Linked DNA regions of Homo sapiens. The protein of the gene in region 1 purifies or fractionates together with the protein of each later gene. This does not show direct contact. Each region holds a gene or a part of one and is shown in the gene's direction. Other genes may lie near its edges.

Region 1 (3,651 bases):
AGTGAGCTATGATCACTCCACTACATTCCAGTCTGGGTGACAGAGTGAGACCCTGTGTTTTAAAAAAAAAAAGCGTCTTTTCTGACATGTTTTCCTGACCCTGCTTAATGCTGATGATGTCTTTGTTGCACAGGCAAGGAGCAAACTTTCCCAGCTGCATGAAAGCCGCCAGGAGGCCCACAGGAGCCTGGAGCAGTATGACCAGGTGCTCGATGGAGCCCATGGTGCCAGCCTGACCGACCTGGCCAACCTGAGCGAAGGCGTCTCCCTGGCAGAGAGGGGCAGTTTTGGAGCCATGGTAAAGGTTGAATAAACGTATTACAGTATGGGGCTCTGGTCCCCTGGTGTGACAGCAGAACATCCCACCCGCCAGATCTGTTCATGGCCAACGTTGGTTCCAGCCAAGTGCAGGCGGCTGTCTGTTGTTTTTGCTGCCACTTTGCGCGTTCACACCAGGCCTTGCAGCCTGGCACAGGTGGCCATGCTGAATCCTGGCTTCCAGAACAAAGTCCAAGATAGGCCTGGATCCTTTCAGAACCTGTTTTGAATGCCCTCCATCTCTGCGGAAGTATTTACATTGGGCCAACCACCCAAGTTCAGAGGGCTTCTCAAACTTAACCAAAATTGGATCAGTTTCTGCTCATTGTGGAAACCCCACATTCTACTAATCAGGGGGCAGGGGACATCTGAGGGGCATGTGTCTATGTGTATGTGTGTTTCCACAAGGAACACCTTGAAAAGCAAATGTGTTGCTAAAGATGAGGAAGTAATGGCAAGCAGCGCCCCAGGGTGTTGCTCTTTCAAGTAAGAATTGGCCTCTCCTGAAATTTTGGTTATGTTTAAAAACCTCTGCACTTTACTCTGACCTCATGACCCTGGAGTTGTGATCAGGCCTGGGGCAGGGGACTGTCGGCCCCTTACATTTTTGAGAGCTCTTGAGCCCCTGATACCAAGACAGGTGTGACCTTTTCCTTAGGTGGTCACATCCCCCCTGTTCACACCAGAGTCTGCCCCTGCAGCCTCGAACCTGGGGACATGTAGTTTCCCATTTCGTCTTGGTGCTGTTCCGGGAGCGGATGGGCCGGGCCGCGCATGTCTGGATGTTTCCTTGGTGCTCTGCTGCCTCCAGCAGCTCTCTCCGTGCTGCCACCCTCTCTCCCAGGGCTCCTCCCTGGAGCCCTTCTGCTCCTGGGCCTCTGTACGTCATGGATTCCTCTTCCTCCCTGGAATAAGAGTGAGCGCTCGTGCTCTCTAAACACCACACTTGCCTCTTTATGTTCAATGCTTGATGTGTTTCTTTTCTCAGCAGCCAAGTCCTCAGTCCCAAGGATTTATGGGGAAGCACACGCGTCCCCTGGGCTGCTGGGAAGGCACTGCTGGCGAGCTCATCTGTCTCTTGTGTCTGGCCCCCGCTGGGTGCACCGCCTCCCTCTTTCCTCCCATACTCTCTTTTCTCGTGGACTCGTAATGAGGTGGTTTCCATAGCCGCCCCCGGGCCCGTCATCATCAGCTTTATCGTCTAAATTTAAACGATGAGCATTCATCCTTCATGAGTTACGAGAAGCCAGAACTCCTCGCTTTGCTCCCTGGCTGTTCTTGGCGTGTGTGTTTCCGTCTCACAACCCGGCTCCTACTTTCCCCATCTGGCATTGTCCCCTGGCACCGCTTTTGGCTTGTCCTGCTCAGTCTTCGTTCAGGGAACAGCTTCCTCTTAAATGTCCCTTTTGCAGGTTTTTAGAAACCGGTTTTCTTGGATAAAAGTTGGCAGTGAAGTGGCAGTTTGCAAGTGGCCAGTGATTCCCCCAACTCCAAAGACAGATTTTTACCTTTCTGGTTATTTTTGTTCATCTTTTGGGCAGGGCAAAGGTTACCTGAGACACAATTACTTTGGGAATGTAGATTAAGATACGTTACATGGAAACTTGCAACTGGCATCCGAAAGAAAAACTGTTTTTATCCTGTTGTACAAATACAGTTTTTAAAGCATTTTTCTGGCTTGTTTCTATTTCTTAATAAATACTTGGAAGAGAGATTTTTGTTTACTCCTGAACACTTCAAGACTGCTTCAGAGCCGAGAGAGAGGTGTCTTAGTTCTCCCTTGTGGGTCGAAGTTGGGGGTTTTAGGTCCCTGAGAATAGTGTATCCACAGTGGTACATCTGGAACTTCCTATGTTTGGACAGTTCTACTCAGGTTACTAAATTCCATGTGAAGCTCACGCAGTGTGACTTTATCTCAAAAGTCAGGGGTTTTTTTTTTTTTTTGTTTTTGTTTTTTTTTTTTTGAGACGGAGTCTCGCTCTGTCTCCCAGACTGGAGTGCAGTGGCACAATCTCAGCTCACTGCAACCTCTGCCTCCCGGGTCCAAGTGATTCTCCTGCCTCAGCCTCCCGAGTAGCAGAGATTACAGGCACGTGCCACCATGCCCAGCTAATTTTTGTATTTTTAGTAGAGACGAGGTTTCACAGTGTTGCCCAGGCTGGTCTTGAACTCCTGACCTCAGGCAATCTGCCCGCCTCGACCTCCCCAAATGCTGGGATTACAGGCGTGAGCCACCTCACCCGCCAAAGTCAGGGTTCTTAAAGCCATATTTATTTCTTGTCTATCATCTGATTATGAGAATATTGACCTCTTGCTCACCATCCAATCAACTTATGGAGAGAAGCTAATAAATCATCCCAGACTTAGGCCTTACTGAGGACAGATTAAGAAAGGTTGATTGATCTGTCACATCCAGACCCAGTGGCATGCTGGAGCCAGTTTTTATTGACTTTCCAGAACCGATTATTAAATAGGAACTGGCCGGGCACAATGGCTCACACCTGTAATCCCAGTCCTTTGGGAGGCTGAGGTGGGAGGATTGCTTGAGGCCAGCTGCGTGCCACTGCACTCCAGCCTGGGTGACACAGCGAGACTCAATCTCTAAAAAAAAAAAAAAAACCCCAAAAAGCAAAAAACAGGAACTTGTGAGCTAGTTGCTTGGAAACTTGAAATCAACCATGATGAGACTGTTTACACCACAGGAATTGGCAGAAGCTCTAAACCAGGGCTTTTTTCTGAGAGAACTGATTCCCAGCACACCCCTGCTGCCCAGCACTCCTCTAAAGGGCGGGAATGTCACAGAAGCTTCTTCAGCCCCCTTTCAGAGTTGCCGTGTGTATTTCCTAAGAAGGGTACAACTTCACACTGGTTGCTGAACTTGTTCAAGATATTACATCTCTGCCAAGGGCCGTGTCATTCATCCTGGCCCTTGTCTGCTGTACTCGTGTCCCCCAAGTTGGCAGATGGGTCTGTTCTCCTTAGTAGGTGGTCTGCAAGGGGTAGAGTTGATGGTATCTTTGTAACAGGGAAATCTCGTTTCCCACTCTGATTCTGTGCAATGGAATCAAAACCACTATTAGTTACCCTGACCTCCTGAATCCTGCTGGGGTCTCAGGCTTCCCCTTGGAAGGGGAAGGAGTGATTGTGGCTTCAGGCCAATGACTCCTGAGAAAGTGATTGCAGGCCTGACTGTCAGTGCAGGGGGCTTGCAGCCAGCATTCCCAGAACCTCAGTCTCTTCTCTGCCATTGTTCACTGTTACTTGGCAGTCTTCCAAGTGACGACTGAAAACACTGAAAAAAAAAAACCTTATAAATAAATGCCAATTAAAAAC
Region 2 (3,651 bases), on another chromosome or scaffold:
ACCGTCACAATGTTGTCACTTCTCACTTTACGCAGCTGGCTCCACTGAGGGTTTGTGAGCTGGTCTCCAGTGATGGCACATAGTTCTTATTACCTTACATGGTAACACTACCTGATCATGGCGTTCTGGAAATTGTGACAATATGTACTGATCTTTTGTTGGTGCAACTAACAATACAAAAGTTGCTGCTCTGTAAATGTATGCTTCAGTTTCATTAGTTTATTTGGAATAATTACCCCTAACATTGTTTTTTTTTTTTTTTTTTTTTCGAGACAAGGTCTTGGTCTGTCATGCAGGCTGGAGTGCAGTAACGCTATCACAGCTCACTGCAGCCTCCACCTCCCTGTCTCAAGAGATTCCCCTGCCTCAGCCTTCTGAGTAGCTGGGACCACAGGCACATGACACCATGCTTGGCTAACTTGTATTTTGTATTTTATTTTTGTTTGACCAGACGAGTTTTAAATACAAGTTTTGTAGTTTTTGTAGAGGTGCCCACACTGGTCTCAAACTCCTGAGTTCAAGTAGTTCATCTGCCTCGGCCTCCCAAAGTACTGGGATTACAGGCATGAACCACTGCGCCCAGCTACTTGTAATGTTTGTAGGTAGTTTAATAGCGAAAGTAGGTACATTCCAGTGATAAGACATTCAGTTTATTATTTTTTCCTTTTTCCTTTTTTTTTTCTTTAGGGGTAAGTGTACTGGAGAGAGTTGGTTATACATTCTAGGAATCTCAAAGGTAAAGTATGATTTAAAAATATTTTTTTAAAATAATTTTTTTAAGTTTGCCTACAGCTACAAATTTTTAAGTTTTATGTAAGTGGAATCCTTTTTTTTTGAGACATATTCTCACTCTGTCATCAGAGTGCAGTGGTGCCATCATAGCTCACTGAAGCCTCAAACTCCTGGCCTGAACAGGGCGATCCTCCTGCCTCAGCCTCCTGAGTAGCTGGGAATACAGGAGCATGCTACTTTGCCCAGCTGAGTCCTTCTTATTTGCTTTGGACAGACTAGTACTTGAAAAAATAATTTTCAAATGTTTAGTTGAGTGTTTTTTTTTCCTTCAACTTTTGGGAGGCTGTTTTTTTGTCATACATATTTCCTTCTCTGGAGTTAATTTTCTGTTAAGCAAGAAGGATTTCAGTTATGTATTTTTTACACTTGAACTACCTAAACTTGTGCTTGCATAGAATTATTTTCAACTTTAACTCCTTAAGTAATCGTTTTCAGGATATTTTAGTTTTTGTTCTTGTTTTTTTTTTGAGTTGGAGTCTCGTTCTGTCGCCCAGGCTGGAGTGCAGCCTCCCGAGTAGCTGGGATTACAGGTGCTACCATGCCCTGCTCATTTTTTATATTTTTAGTAGAGACAAGGTTTCACCATGTTGGCTAGGCTGGTCTTGAACTCGTGACCTCTGGTGATCCACCCGCTGTGCTGGGATTACAGGCATGAGCTACCATGCCTGGCTTTTTTTTTTTTTTTTTTTTTTTTGGAGGCAGAGTCTCACTCTGTTGCCCAGGCTGGAGTACAGTGGCATGATCTCTGCTTACTGCAACCTCTGCCTTCCAGGTTCAAGTGATTCTCCTGCCTCAGCCTCCCTGGTAGCTGGGATTACAGGTGGCTGCCACCATGTCCAGCTAATTTTTTTTATTTTTAGTAGAGACGGGGTTTTACCATGTTGGCCAGGCTGGTCTTGAACTCCTACTCTCAAGTGATCTGCCCGCCTTGGCCTCTGGAAGTGCTGGGATAGGTGCAAGCCACCATGCTTGGGCAGATGTTTTAATTTGTAAAGGAACTAGGACCAATAATTTTTTTTACTGTATACACATTTTAGAATAAGTTTTAGGCACCTAGCTGTTTGATTTCTGGTAACTAAGATTATAGTCAGTTAAACTTTACTGCTGGCCAGGCATGGTGGCTCATGCCTGTAATCCTAGCACTTTGGGAGGCCGAGGTGGGCGAATCACTTGAGGTCAGGAGTTTGAGTCCAGCCTGGCCAACATGGAGAAACCCCGTCTCTACTAAAAATACAAAAATTAGCTGGGTGTGGTGGCGCACACCTGTAGTCCCAGCTACTTGGGAGGCTGAGGCAGGAGAATTGCTTGAACCTGGGAGGCAGAGTTTGCAGTGAGCTGAGATTGTGCCCCTGCACTCCAGCCTGGGTGACAGAGCTAGAGTCTGTCTCAAAAAAACAAAAACAAAAGAATCTTTCCTTCTTTATGCTTACCTATATTTTCTAACTTTTCTGGATATGTTTCAATATGTATTATGATTTTGTAAAAAATTTCAGAAGGGTGGTTATTTTTTGTTTCAAAGCTGAAACCCAGTTTAAAACTCTAATACAGTGGTCAGAGGAAGTGGTGAATATCTTGATACTTCAGTTTCTAATATTTAATATATATATAAGTGAATGGTTGAGGCCGGGCGCAGTGGCTCACGCCTGTAATCCCAGCACTTTGGGAGGCTGAGGCGGGTGGATCACCTGAGGTCAGGAGTTTGAGACCAGCGTGACCAACATGGAGAAACCCCGTTTCTGGTAAAAGTACAAAATTAGCCAGGTGTAGTGGCACATGCCTGTAATCCCAGCTACTCAGGAGGCTGAGGCAGGAGAATCGCTTGAACCTGGGAGTGGGAGGCAGAGGTTGCGATGAGCCGAGATCGTGCCATTGCACTCCAGCCTGGGCAACAAGAGCGAAACTCCATCTCAAAAAATAAAAAAGAATGGTTGAGTGAAGGACTTAACAGACTACATAGGGGTTTCTATAAATTTTTTTTTTTGAGTTTGAAGATGAACCAGATACCTGATAAATGCTTGTGTCTGAAAGAAAAGTATAAAAGTATAATTTAATTCTAATACTCTTTGTGTGTGTGTGTGGCCAAAATTATGTTTTTGTATACCTTTTTTTGTAAGCCATTTAAAAAATACAGGCTTTAAACATACTCTTGGAAGTGTATAAACAGATACTGTGTCTGCTTGTTAATCTAAGATGTCTGTCCGAAAAGGTGCTTGCTTGGTCTTGCTCCCTTATAATGCCGGTACACCCACGCTGGAGACTAGTAGAAAGCATGTTGTCAGACGTGTTTAGTTCTTTTTTTTTTCCTTACCAACTTATGTGTTGTTATTTATTTTCTGTGAATCTTTGGAAGGATTAAACCCACGTGGTTTTTCTATCAGAAAAAAGACAAAACAAAATTAGTCAAGGCATATTAGTCTTTTTCCTTTTTCCTAGGATCAGAGTGTAGTAATATCCTGCCAATCTTAATTTTAACAAATACTTATATTTTTCGGACTTAGATTAACTTATTTTTTTATTTTTTATTTTTTGAGACAGACTCTTGCTCTCTTGCCCAGGCTGGAGTCCAGTGACCTGATCTTGGCTCACTGCAACCTCTGCCTCCCGGGTTCAAGCGATTCTCCTGCCTCAGCCTCCCGAGTAGCTGGGATTACAGGCACCCACCACCACACCTGGCTAATTTTTGTATTTTTAGTAGAGACGTTGTTTCACCGTGTTAGCCGTGCTAGTCTTGAACTCCTGACCTCAAGTGATCCACCTGCCTCGAGTGCTGGGCTTACCCACCGCACCTGGCCCTCCTTTCACTTTCTAATGCAGAATTCTAATCTATCCCTTTGTTTTACTTGTGTTATTTATATTTAC

Evidence for each region. Proteins that work in one complex are often made in the same cells at the same time.
Region 2: the proteins of EPS15L1 (region 1) and GAPVD1 purify together in Homo sapiens (affinity purification with mass spectrometry, with the first as the bait; one large-scale study listed by BioGRID). This does not show direct contact.

Annotation. Positions count from the first base shown.
Region 1 is NC_000019.10:16,398,968-16,402,618, reverse strand, and holds part of EPS15L1 (epidermal growth factor receptor substrate 15-like 1), read left to right. Parts: intron 1-133; coding exon 134-298; coding exon of another isoform or gene 299-313; exon of another isoform or gene 314-2,030; intron 2,031-3,651.
Region 2 is NC_000009.12:125,268,249-125,271,899, forward strand, and holds part of GAPVD1 (GTPase-activating protein and VPS9 domain-containing protein 1), read left to right. Parts: intron 1-687; 5' UTR 688-736; intron 737-3,651. UniProt on the Homo sapiens protein: Acts both as a GTPase-activating protein (GAP) and a guanine nucleotide exchange factor (GEF), and participates in various processes such as endocytosis, insulin receptor internalization or LC2A4/GLUT4 trafficking.